Regions from separate parts of the Homo sapiens genome. Here region 1 is linked to region 2. The links come from fine-mapping of genetic effects on plasma protein levels. A gene starts in region 2. The other region holds a variant in brackets. All regions are shown on one strand. Distances are from middle to middle. Region 1 overlaps PKD2 (polycystin 2, transient receptor potential cation channel). Region 2 holds the start of PKD2 (polycystin 2, transient receptor potential cation channel).

What was found. PIP is the posterior inclusion probability: the model's chance that the variant is causal. Protein levels are from antibody-based Olink assays in UK Biobank. Linkage for the fine-mapping came from a reference panel and not from the study's own genotypes, which makes the PIPs less certain.
Region 1: its variant is fine-mapped to the plasma level of the PKD2 protein (UK Biobank, PIP 0.91).

The regions. Positions count from the first base shown.
Region 1 is chr4:88,048,976-88,053,975 of GRCh38, forward strand. PKD2 (polycystin 2, transient receptor potential cation channel) reads left to right here. Exons shown (of 15, transcript NM_000297.4): 7 at 3,016-3,183. Among named protein-coding and RNA genes, the nearest start is that of PKD2, 44 kb to the left of the region's middle. The variant T/C (reference allele first, on the strand shown) is at 2,879.
Region 2 is chr4:88,004,461-88,009,925 of GRCh38, forward strand. It overlaps PKD2 (polycystin 2, transient receptor potential cation channel), which reads left to right and starts at 3,175. Exons shown (of 15, transcript NM_000297.4): 1 at 3,175-3,868. The coding sequence starts at 3,274. RefSeq lists silencers at 2,938-3,867, 3,918-4,057.

The sequences.
Region 1 (5,000 bases), 44 kb after region 2:
CTTATATGGATTTATTTATGTTTAGGCCATTGAAATAATGGTAGAAAGGTAAGTATGATATGCTAATTAAGAACAGACTTCCTTTTTATATTTTAACCAAAGAACTCAATATCAACAAAAGACTAGTCAGTGGTATTCACCCTTTTTGATCATACACACCTATCAGTGAAAGCTTTGACTACTACACACCCTAATTTATTATCTTTATTTGTAAATTGTGTGCCTACTTTGGTGTAACAGGTACATCCGTAAAACATACACATACATAGAATTTTAAAGATTGGAATAAAAGTTAATACAAATAGAATTCCAAAACTTTCTTACCACCTACCTAGAAGTTGTAACATTTTCTTCCCATAGCCCAGTGAATTGCCTTGCACCTGCTTTGGCGACCAATAGGAAGAAAGGCAATGATATCATGGAAATTGTCTCTTTGGCTCAACAGCCACAGCATTTTGCAAGTGTTTCTTTGAAAACTTGCTTCACTGTGTTTTTCAATTTTTTTTTTAAACAACACTTAATACTGCCAGACAACAATTCAGACAGTGTGCTTTTTGTTTATAAAGAACAAGGAAGGGCTACTGGAATCTCACTTGTCCTTTGAAACTTTTGCTGACCAAGTGTAGAAGTGAGGGCATGCCTTCTGCTCACCCACAAAACACACCCTGTGCTCCACTGGACCTTCAAACCAGTGGAAAGACCCAACGCTTTTTGTTTTATCTAGCCAAAATTTGCTTATGCTTACCCAAAACCTGAAAAGAAATTATATTCTTAATATAAATACAATCACATCTTGAAATCACTTTGAAATTTTCTTTATTTTCCTTTTTTCTTTCCCCAACATATGTTCTGAAGTACACAGGCTGCATCAGTCAGCCATTTGTCCTGAGCAATAGTCTTTCAAAACTAGAAGAATTACTTGAAAAAAAGAAGACTATTAAGGAATTTAAACTCAAATAATTTATTGACCACTTGCTAGGTTGTACAGGGTAAATTTTTTTTTTTTTTTTTTTTTTTGAGATGGAGTCTTGCTCTGTCACCCAGACTGGAGTACAGTGGCACCATCTCGGCTCACTGCAAGCTCTGCCTCCCGGGTTCACGCCATTCTCCCTCCTCAGCCTCCTGAGTAGCTGGGACTACAGGTGCCTGCCACCATGCCCAGCTAATTTTTTGTATTTTTAGTAGAGACAGGGTTTCACCGAGTTAGCCAGGATGGTCTCGATCTCCTGACCTCGTGATCCGCCCACCTCAGCCTCCCAAAGTGCTGGGATTACAGGCGTGAACCACCGCGCCTGGCCCGACTAATTCATTTATTCAGCGAGTGTTTTCTGAGCACCTACTATGTACTTGCCACTGTTCTAGGCACTGGGGATACAGGAATGAACAAAATCACCCAAATCTCTGCCCTCCCAATTTTCTGGTATGGAGAGAAAGTTCTTTTGTAGATAGGGATGAGAATCCCACAGAAAACTCAGGAGTGATGTAACAATGCAAATGCTCACAAAATCTCTTTCCTCATCTTTCATTCCCTATTTGGAAGGAAAGGTTTCAAAGACATTGATGTTGTATAAATGACCATCTTCTTCATTATTTTATAAACATTTGTCCTGTGCAGAGTAAAAACAACTGGACTGCATAACAAATTATACCTATTGAGAGTTGGGTAAAGAGTTACCATTGGATCCAGTCCACCAACCCAAATGTTTTTCTACATGTATTAGCTGAGATGAGCTCCTCATCTCAGGAGAAGCCTATTCCCACTGCAGGCCTTCTTGAGTCTGCTGTGTTCATCATTCCCACCACCAACACAAAAATACAAGATTGGCTCTGGAAATCCTTCACAGAGAAGGAAGGAAAGGAAGATGGTGAGGTTGGCTTTTTAGCTGTGATCAGCAACCAAGCTGGTCTTTGCTATGAGAATCAGTGGGACCATGATCTCTATGGTCATCTCAGGAAGGGAGGGCTAATGAAGTGGTCTCTGGCCATGATTCCTAAGAAGAGAGAATGGACAGCAAAGATCGCAGCACCTGCCACAGCCCACCTGCTGCAGATTCAGACCCCCTGGTGGGGCCAGGTTGTTATGACTAACCCCTAGCACTGTCTACATTTAGTGGTGATGGATGCCAAGGAGGGGGCAGTGTCCCCTTGGATCTGATTGTAAAGCTTAGAACCAAAGCATATGTGGAAAGTTGTAGGGTCATGAGTTAAGGGACAGAAATGAGCAAGAGAGAAGCCCTTGGCTCATATATTCCCACTGCAGGCCTTCTTGAGCCCTCTGTATTCATCATTCCCACTGTCTTTCAAGCCCAAGCTCATGCTTTGTTCTCATGGGCACTCATTTTTAGGATATCTTTTGTCCCTCTTGACTTTATGTTGTGTGATACCAACTCTTTAGTAGTTTTTTGTATTATTTAACTTCATGTGTTTATCTGCTCTTGAGTCTCGAGGGCAGGATTTATGCAGTTTACTTCTGTTTATTCCTCTTAGCCCTTGCACAGTGCTGTATACATAGACATCTACTATATTTTTGTTAAACAGAGCAAAGAATGGCTGGCAATTGGAGAATGCAGAGAAACCGAAAAATTTTAAATTTAAAAATCACAAATAAAAACAGCAGGATGAAGGCAAGAAAGCAAAAGGGTGGAAAGTGATTAAAATGAAGGTGGCAGAAAAAACAGAAAGCATTCCTCTTTGAGTTTGAGTCTGTTATAGTGTGATCTCTTCTGTGTATGCATGTATGTGTGTGTAATGTATATGTGCACACACATGCATGCATGCCTTCGTTGAGTTTCTATTCCGAACTAAGGAAATGCAAGCAATATACTGTTTTACTTATTTTATGGCAGGGCTTAACACTTTCCATTTGAGTGAGTGACTT[T/C]TAAGAATGACATCGGGTAAGTATAATGGTGAGCCCTTATAATTAATACATTGGTGAAGAAAAATATACTAGTCATATTAAGGTAAGTTTCATATTTCTAAAACACTGTAATAAAATATAAATATTTTGCTTTTCAGCTGTCAGTGGTAGCTATAGGAATTAACATATACAGAACATCAAATGTGGAGGTGCTACTACAGTTTCTGGAAGATCAAAATACTTTCCCCAACTTTGAGCATCTGGCATATTGGCAGATACAGTTCAACAATATAGCTGCTGTCACAGTATTTTTTGTCTGGATTAAGGTAATTTATAAATTTCATGTTCTACATTTTAAATAATATTTTCTTTAAAAAAAATGAGTTCCACAAAATCATGGAATACTTGAATTTGAAATTCAAGTGACCAGCCAAAGCTGCTCAATATTTACTTTGAGACAGGGTCTCACTCTGTCACCCAGGCTGGAGTGCAGTGGTATGATTACAGCTCATTGCAGCCTCGACTTCCCAGGCCCAAGCGATCCTCCCACCTTATCCTCCGAAGTCACTGGGACTACAGGCATGTGCCACCATACCCGGCTAATTTTTAAATTTTTTCGTAGAGACAAGGTCTCATTATGTTGCCCAGGCTGGTTTTGAACTCCTGGGTTCAAGCAATCCTCCCACCTCAGCCTCCCAAAGTGCTGGGATTACAGGCATGAGCCACCGTGCCAGGCCTCATATTTTACATATAAAGTAAACTATTGAGACTCATGTGATCATTCCTCTCACTGTCAATGACATACTTCTGCTATCTGAATTAGTGCAAGATCAGTCCCTATAGGTTTTGTTTAACAAATGCAGTAAGAGGCCTTTCAGTGTGTTAGCTGGGCCTGGGGCCCCAGGCTGCTAACAGATGAGATGAACAGGTGAAGGAAAAGGAACTTAGAGAAAGAGAGGGAAGGAGCAGGTGGAGGGAAGGGGAGAGTTGCTGCACTTGGAAATGCTTGCTAGAAGGGATCGCCTCTTTTCCAGGTAGAGGCTGTAAGGGAAGCTTTACCTAGAATTAAGGTTGGAACAGACACTGCTTCCAAATAGTTCCTTGCTCACTATTTTCCTTATTGTCCCAAGATATAATGTGCATTTCCATGTGTGTGAAAGGTTATGACATTTCATATACAACAAGCCTCAATTCTGGAGATGCAGGAAATTTCAATAATTCTCAGGCAGCAGCTGCCATTCGGTCACCAGCACAGGCTCTGATTGTGCTGTCCAGACAGTAAGTACTAGCCACATGTGCCTATTTAAATTCAAATTTAAATTAGTTAAGCTTAAATACAATTAAAAACGCAGTTCCTTGGTCCTACTGGCCACACATTAAGTGTTCAATGGCTACTGTCTAGGACAGTGGAAATGTAGAACATTTCCATCATCACAGAACGTTCTCTTGAAAAGCACTGTTCTGGAAGGTACTTACCCGTTATGTACTTTTCTGAGTTGGTATTCATACCTAGAAGACCTGAGGTTTATCACAAGACATAGACTTGGACCAGGCGCAGTGGCTCATGCCTGTAATTCCAGCATTTTGGGAGGCCGAGATAGGTCCCCTGAGCCCAGGAGTCTGATACCAGCCTGGGCAACATGGCAAAACCTCATCTCTACTAAAAATACAAAAATTAGCTGGGGGTGGTGGCACGTGCCTGTAGTCCTAGCTACTTAGGAGGCTTAGGCGGGAGGATTGCTTGAATCCAGAAGGCGGAGGGTGCAGTGAGCCAAGATCGCACCGCTGCACTCCAGCCTGGGCAACAGAGTGAGACCCTGTCTCAAAAAAAAAAAAAAAATGCATAGACTTTATCCTGTATTTCTCATGCTATTTATTTATTGACATGCTTGTTCAAGAGAAACCATCACTAAAGCACAAAACCTTGATCATAACATAGTAATAATAATCAAACAGCAAAAATAATAATAGTAATAAGAATGTTCTGTGGTGATGGAAATGTTCTATATTTTCATTGTCCTAGACAGTAGCCACTAACCATGTATAGGCATGGAACACTTAACATGTGGCTAGTAGGACCAAGGGACTGAATTTTTAATTGTATTTAATCTTACTTAATTTAAATTTGAATTTAGATATCCAC
Region 2 (5,465 bases):
GTTCCCCCCCCATAATTCATACATTGAAATCCTAACCTTCAAAGTGATGGTATAAGGAGCTGGGGCCTCTGAGAGGTGATTACATCATGGGGCTGGAGCCCTCACAAATGGGATTAGTGCCCTTAGAGAAGCAGCTCAAGGGAGCTCTTTTGCCCCTTCTACCATAAGACACAGCTAGGAGGTGCAGTCTATGAACCAGAAAGTAGACCCTCACCAGACCACAAATCTGCTGGCAGCATGATCTTGGACCGTCCAGCTTCCAGAACTGTAAGAAATAAAGGTTCATCGTTTATAAGCCACCCACTACATGATATTTTTTATAGCAGCCCGAATGGACTAAAACACATGTATTAATTCACCTAATCCTCACAACAACCCTATGAGGTAGGCATTATCATTATCCTCATCTTTGGTGGTACAAGGAGATAAAGTGACTTTCCCAAGGTCACACAGCTAGGAAGTAGTGAGTAAATCAGAATCCAGGCAGTCTGGCTCCAGGGTCCTTACAACGAATTAGTGACTGCAGGCACAAGCATAGAGTAACCTGACTCAAAGACCACTGAATTTTCTTCTAAGTCTGGGATTCCAGATGATTGTCTCACTAGTGCTAACAGTGAAGTATAGAAATGTGGGGGAAATATTTATGAAACCTCTTCCATTTGGAACACATTGGTGCTTCTCAAACTTTGGATGCCTGAGAATCCCCTGTGAAGATTCAGAATTTCAGGACTGGAATCCGGAAGATTTTGAGTCAATAAGGTTGGAATGTGGACCCAGTATCTATATTTTTAGCAAGAGCTGCAAGTGATGCTGGAGATCTTCTGATCACAATTTGAAAACATTGTACTAGGCCTATTCTCCAGAGGACCCTTTGGCTCAGATTCTGCATTCTCTTTCCAGGCCTGGCTCTCCTCTGTTGGAATGTGTCTGTAAGAATCCTTCGACTCTGCAGTGCTGCTGGTGCTATTCAGGACATCTTCAGCTTCAGAAGTTCCTTGGATGACAGGCACCATAACCCTTAACCCACTTGGTAATCTCTCATTTTTGGTCTGTCTCCTCTTGAGGGCCAAGGCTGTATCATACTCCTCTCTACATGCCCAGACCTTAATTCAGGGCACAGGAAATGTCTTCAGAATGAACTGATGAATAGCATGAGCTAGGGCTGTGCTCCAGACCCACCAGTCTTGCCTTTGAGAAGCTCACAGTTAAGAGAAGAACATGAATATCTAAATTAATAAACTGCAGGATCAGGTAATAGGTAGCCATAATTACCTAAATATTAGCAGCATGTTATATGTGCCTAGAGAACAAATGAATAATTCATTAAGGTGGATGGATGGCATGGGATGCCATGCTAGAGGAGTACATTAAGAGCTGTTAAAGCTAAATTGTGTCCCCCCAAAAATTTCTGTGTTGAAGTCCTAACCCCCATTACCTCAGAACATGACCATACTTGGAGACAGGGTCTTTACAGAAGTAATGAAGTGAAAACAAGGTCATGAGGGTAGGCCCTAATCCAATATGATGTATAAGAATAGACAATTAGGACACAGACGCATACAGAGGGAAGAGGGAAGACGGCGTGAGGACACAAAAGCGGGGCCATCTGCAAGCCAAGGAGAGAGGCCTCAGAAGAAACCAACTCTGCCAACACCTCGTGAGAAAATACAATTTTTCTTTTCTTTTTCCTTCCTTCCTTCTTTTTTTCTTTCTTCTCTCTCTCTCTTTCTTTCTTTATGAGACAGAGTCTCACTCTGTCACTTGGAGTGCAGTGGCCCGATCTTGGCTCACTACATCCTCTGCCTCCCGGGCTCAAGCGATCCTCCCACCTCAGCGTCCCTAATAGCTGGGACCAAAGGCACACACCGCAAAGCCTGGCTAATTTTTGTATTTTTTGTAGAGACAAGGTGAGCAAATAAATTTCTGTTAAGCCACCCAGTCTCTGGTACTTTGTTATGGCAGCCCTAACAAACAAATACAGGAGCAGATTATGAGAATTTACTAAACCAAACCACAGAAATTAAATTTTATCCTTTCAGCTGCCAGAAGCCCACAGAGGTGTCTAAGCATCAACGTGACAAATAAGCAGCTTTGGTTCTGCAATATAACCTGGAAATAGTGAGGACACCGACGTGGAGAATAGAGATGGGAGTTGACAGGGATCAATTGTTCTAATGCGGAATAATGCAAGACATAAGATCAAGCCAGCAGGAGTGAGAAACAGAGATCATATCAGGGTGATATCTGTGGGGCAAAAGTAACAAGAAGATAAGGTGTAGGCGGTGGAGGGTAAACCGCGAGGCTTCCATGAAGAAGAGTGGCCTGGGAAGTGAGGAGGACAGCGAAGCCCCAAACCTCACCTTGGGATACGGGAAGTGAAGCAGGTTCCAGAGAAGGGGACAAGATAATGACTTAGGGTAGGATAAATTTCAGACAATTGCAGAGCATCACATTAGATGTGTTCAGAAGAGTGGAAATAAAGTTCTGTGCCTAGGCCCTCATGCAGGATTCTGTTGCTAGAAGTCAGTGCTGGCCGCAGGGAGACCGGAGATCACAGTGGAGGCACCAGCGATCCGAGAGTCCTATGACGAATCCCTGGGATCCCCACAATGTGTGGAGACAGAAGCCAACCAAAGAGCGAGAAAGCATCTCCAAACCAGCAGAATCAGGGGCAGGAGGCCCGCCAAATGCACAGCAAGTCAGCCTTGGTAGTTTGCAAATGGAAAGATTTCTTTGACCCGCTGGAGACTTCAGCTCAGGCTGGATGTCGCTAATTCACACCATCTCACCAAAAGGTTCTTTCCCTGCCCTTTGGTGAATCGAGGCAGAAGTGGCTGGTGGATAACTGGGACCCAAGAGTTATCTCAGCGTCGGGCAGGCATCGACAGCTCCAGGAGCCCTTTCCCTGCAGGCGGGCTGGCGGGTGAGCGATTCCCTCCCTTCCCAGGCCTTCCCGGGAATGGAACGTGGGCGCCCGCGCCCGGGCTCCGGTTCCACTTGGAACGCGGACTCGGGAGCCGCCGGGCGAGCGCGCAGACCGCGGGGGCGGCTCCCTCGCACCTCCCCGCTCAGCGCGCCGCGGCGGATGGGCGAGGCGGGGCGAGGCCAGAGGGAGGCGGGCCAAAGGGGCGGGCGAGAGGACGCGGGACCGCGGGGAGGTCGGGGGCGGGGAGCAGGCGGCGGCGGGCGCCGGGAAGAAAGGAACATGGCTCCTGAGGCGCACAGCGCCGAGCGCGGCGCCGCGCACCCGCGCGCCGGACGCCAGTGACCGCGATGGTGAACTCCAGTCGCGTGCAGCCTCAGCAGCCCGGGGACGCCAAGCGGCCGCCCGCGCCCCGCGCGCCGGACCCGGGCCGGCTGATGGCTGGCTGCGCGGCCGTGGGCGCCAGCCTCGCCGCCCCGGGCGGCCTCTGCGAGCAGCGGGGCCTGGAGATCGAGATGCAGCGCATCCGGCAGGCGGCCGCGCGGGACCCCCCGGCCGGAGCCGCGGCCTCCCCTTCTCCTCCGCTCTCGTCGTGCTCCCGGCAGGCGTGGAGCCGCGATAACCCCGGCTTCGAGGCCGAGGAGGAGGAGGAGGAGGTGGAAGGGGAAGAAGGCGGAATGGTGGTGGAGATGGACGTAGAGTGGCGCCCGGGCAGCCGGAGGTCGGCCGCCTCCTCGGCCGTGAGCTCCGTGGGCGCGCGGAGCCGGGGGCTTGGGGGCTACCACGGCGCGGGCCACCCGAGCGGGAGGCGGCGCCGGCGAGAGGACCAGGGCCCGCCGTGCCCCAGCCCAGTCGGCGGCGGGGACCCGCTGCATCGCCACCTCCCCCTGGAAGGGCAGCCGCCCCGAGTGGCCTGGGCGGAGAGGCTGGTTCGCGGGCTGCGAGGTAAGAGCGCGCGACCCGCAGCGGCAGATGCACGAACCAGAACGGCCGGCGCCGGCCGGGGCCATCGCCCGCTGCGGCAGCTCCCCGGGCTCCATCTCGCATCCCCTCTGCGTTCCGCCTCCCTTGGAAGCGCATTCCCCACCTCCGCTAGTGCTGCCCTATTTCCGGTACCCAGCGCGGAATTCCACTGCTCTTTTGTTGGTGCATATTTATTGGATACCTCCTTCTTCAGGATATGTCACCATAGTCTTTTTTACTGAAAATTAGTGAAAGCCTAATTAGAGTGAAAGAGTACATCTGGGTTTTGTTTTTTTTTTTCTTGTAGAGGAAAAAATGAACATTACTTGTGTAACTGATGGTAGTTGCAACTGCATATTTGCCAATGTCACAAAATCTAAAGGAAAATGTTATAGTCACCCGTGGTTTCCTTCTTGCCTGGACACTCCATTGTCCCGGGCTGAAAAGGGTAGCAGTACAGTGCATATAATGTCAAGTTGTGGGAGGAGTGTGGCAGATTGTCATTGGTGCATTTTTTTGGTGATGTGTGTGGTTGTTTTGAGGAGTGGGAGCTGTTAAGAACACCACAAATAGAATAAAATAATATCGTGAAGTTATTTGGCCGTTTCTAATTCTAGACATTTTTCTAAAAACAGTTGCAAAGGAAAGATTACATTGTTTTAAAAAAATTTGAAGTATGTTTTTAAATAACTAAATTAATGTTCTTTGAAATTCCACCAAAATGATGAAGTCACCAGATAGCAGCTGATAAATGTGTCTGAGCCCAGTGCGCCCAGCTCTACAAAAGGCAGAAGAGGAATTTTCAAATTTGCCAGTGCCCAGTAAGAGGACATGAATTTTCTAGTACCAGAGGAAATTCTCTTTTTACAAATTTTGTCAGAGGTATCCTTGGGAAAGTATTTCATTTGCTTTTACCCTCCAAATTATTTTAATCTATATTTTTAAGAGTTTCCATTCTCAGTTGAGTTTTTCTTGTTCTTCTCCTTCTGTCAGTTTTGAAAGTCTTGCACAAAAACAATCCAGGTGTTGTTACAGCAGTGTGATTAAAACCAGGTCAGGCCTACACTGAAATCCCAGTTCCACCACTCATTAGCTGTACGACCTTGAGCAAGTTACTTATCCTCTCTGATACCCAATTTTTGGATTTTTTTTTTTTTTAAAGAGATGATCATAACGCTTAGGACTTGACTCTTTGGGAGAATTAAGTGAGTTAAGACATAAAATGTGCAGCATGTATTTGTCATGTTATTAGCGCTTCAGAAATATAAATGTAAACATTTTGGTACTTCGTTTATGGAGATTCTTATACTAGTTAATTTTATTAAAAGCATGATGGGGAACAGAAGATCCTTTTCGGATAACCTGTGTGAGTAAATTAATAAAACACTAACACTTTTTAAGATTCAAAACTGGATTAATTATGTTATTTTACACCATTTAAAATGTGCATTTAAAAAATATTCACTGAAGTGAGAGAGAAGTTCCTTTTAAGTTAATAAATAATGGTAAGTTGCATGATCCTTTTAACTCAGTTTAAGCATTTGATAACACCCCTAACCTTGTTTGAATAAACTCAATA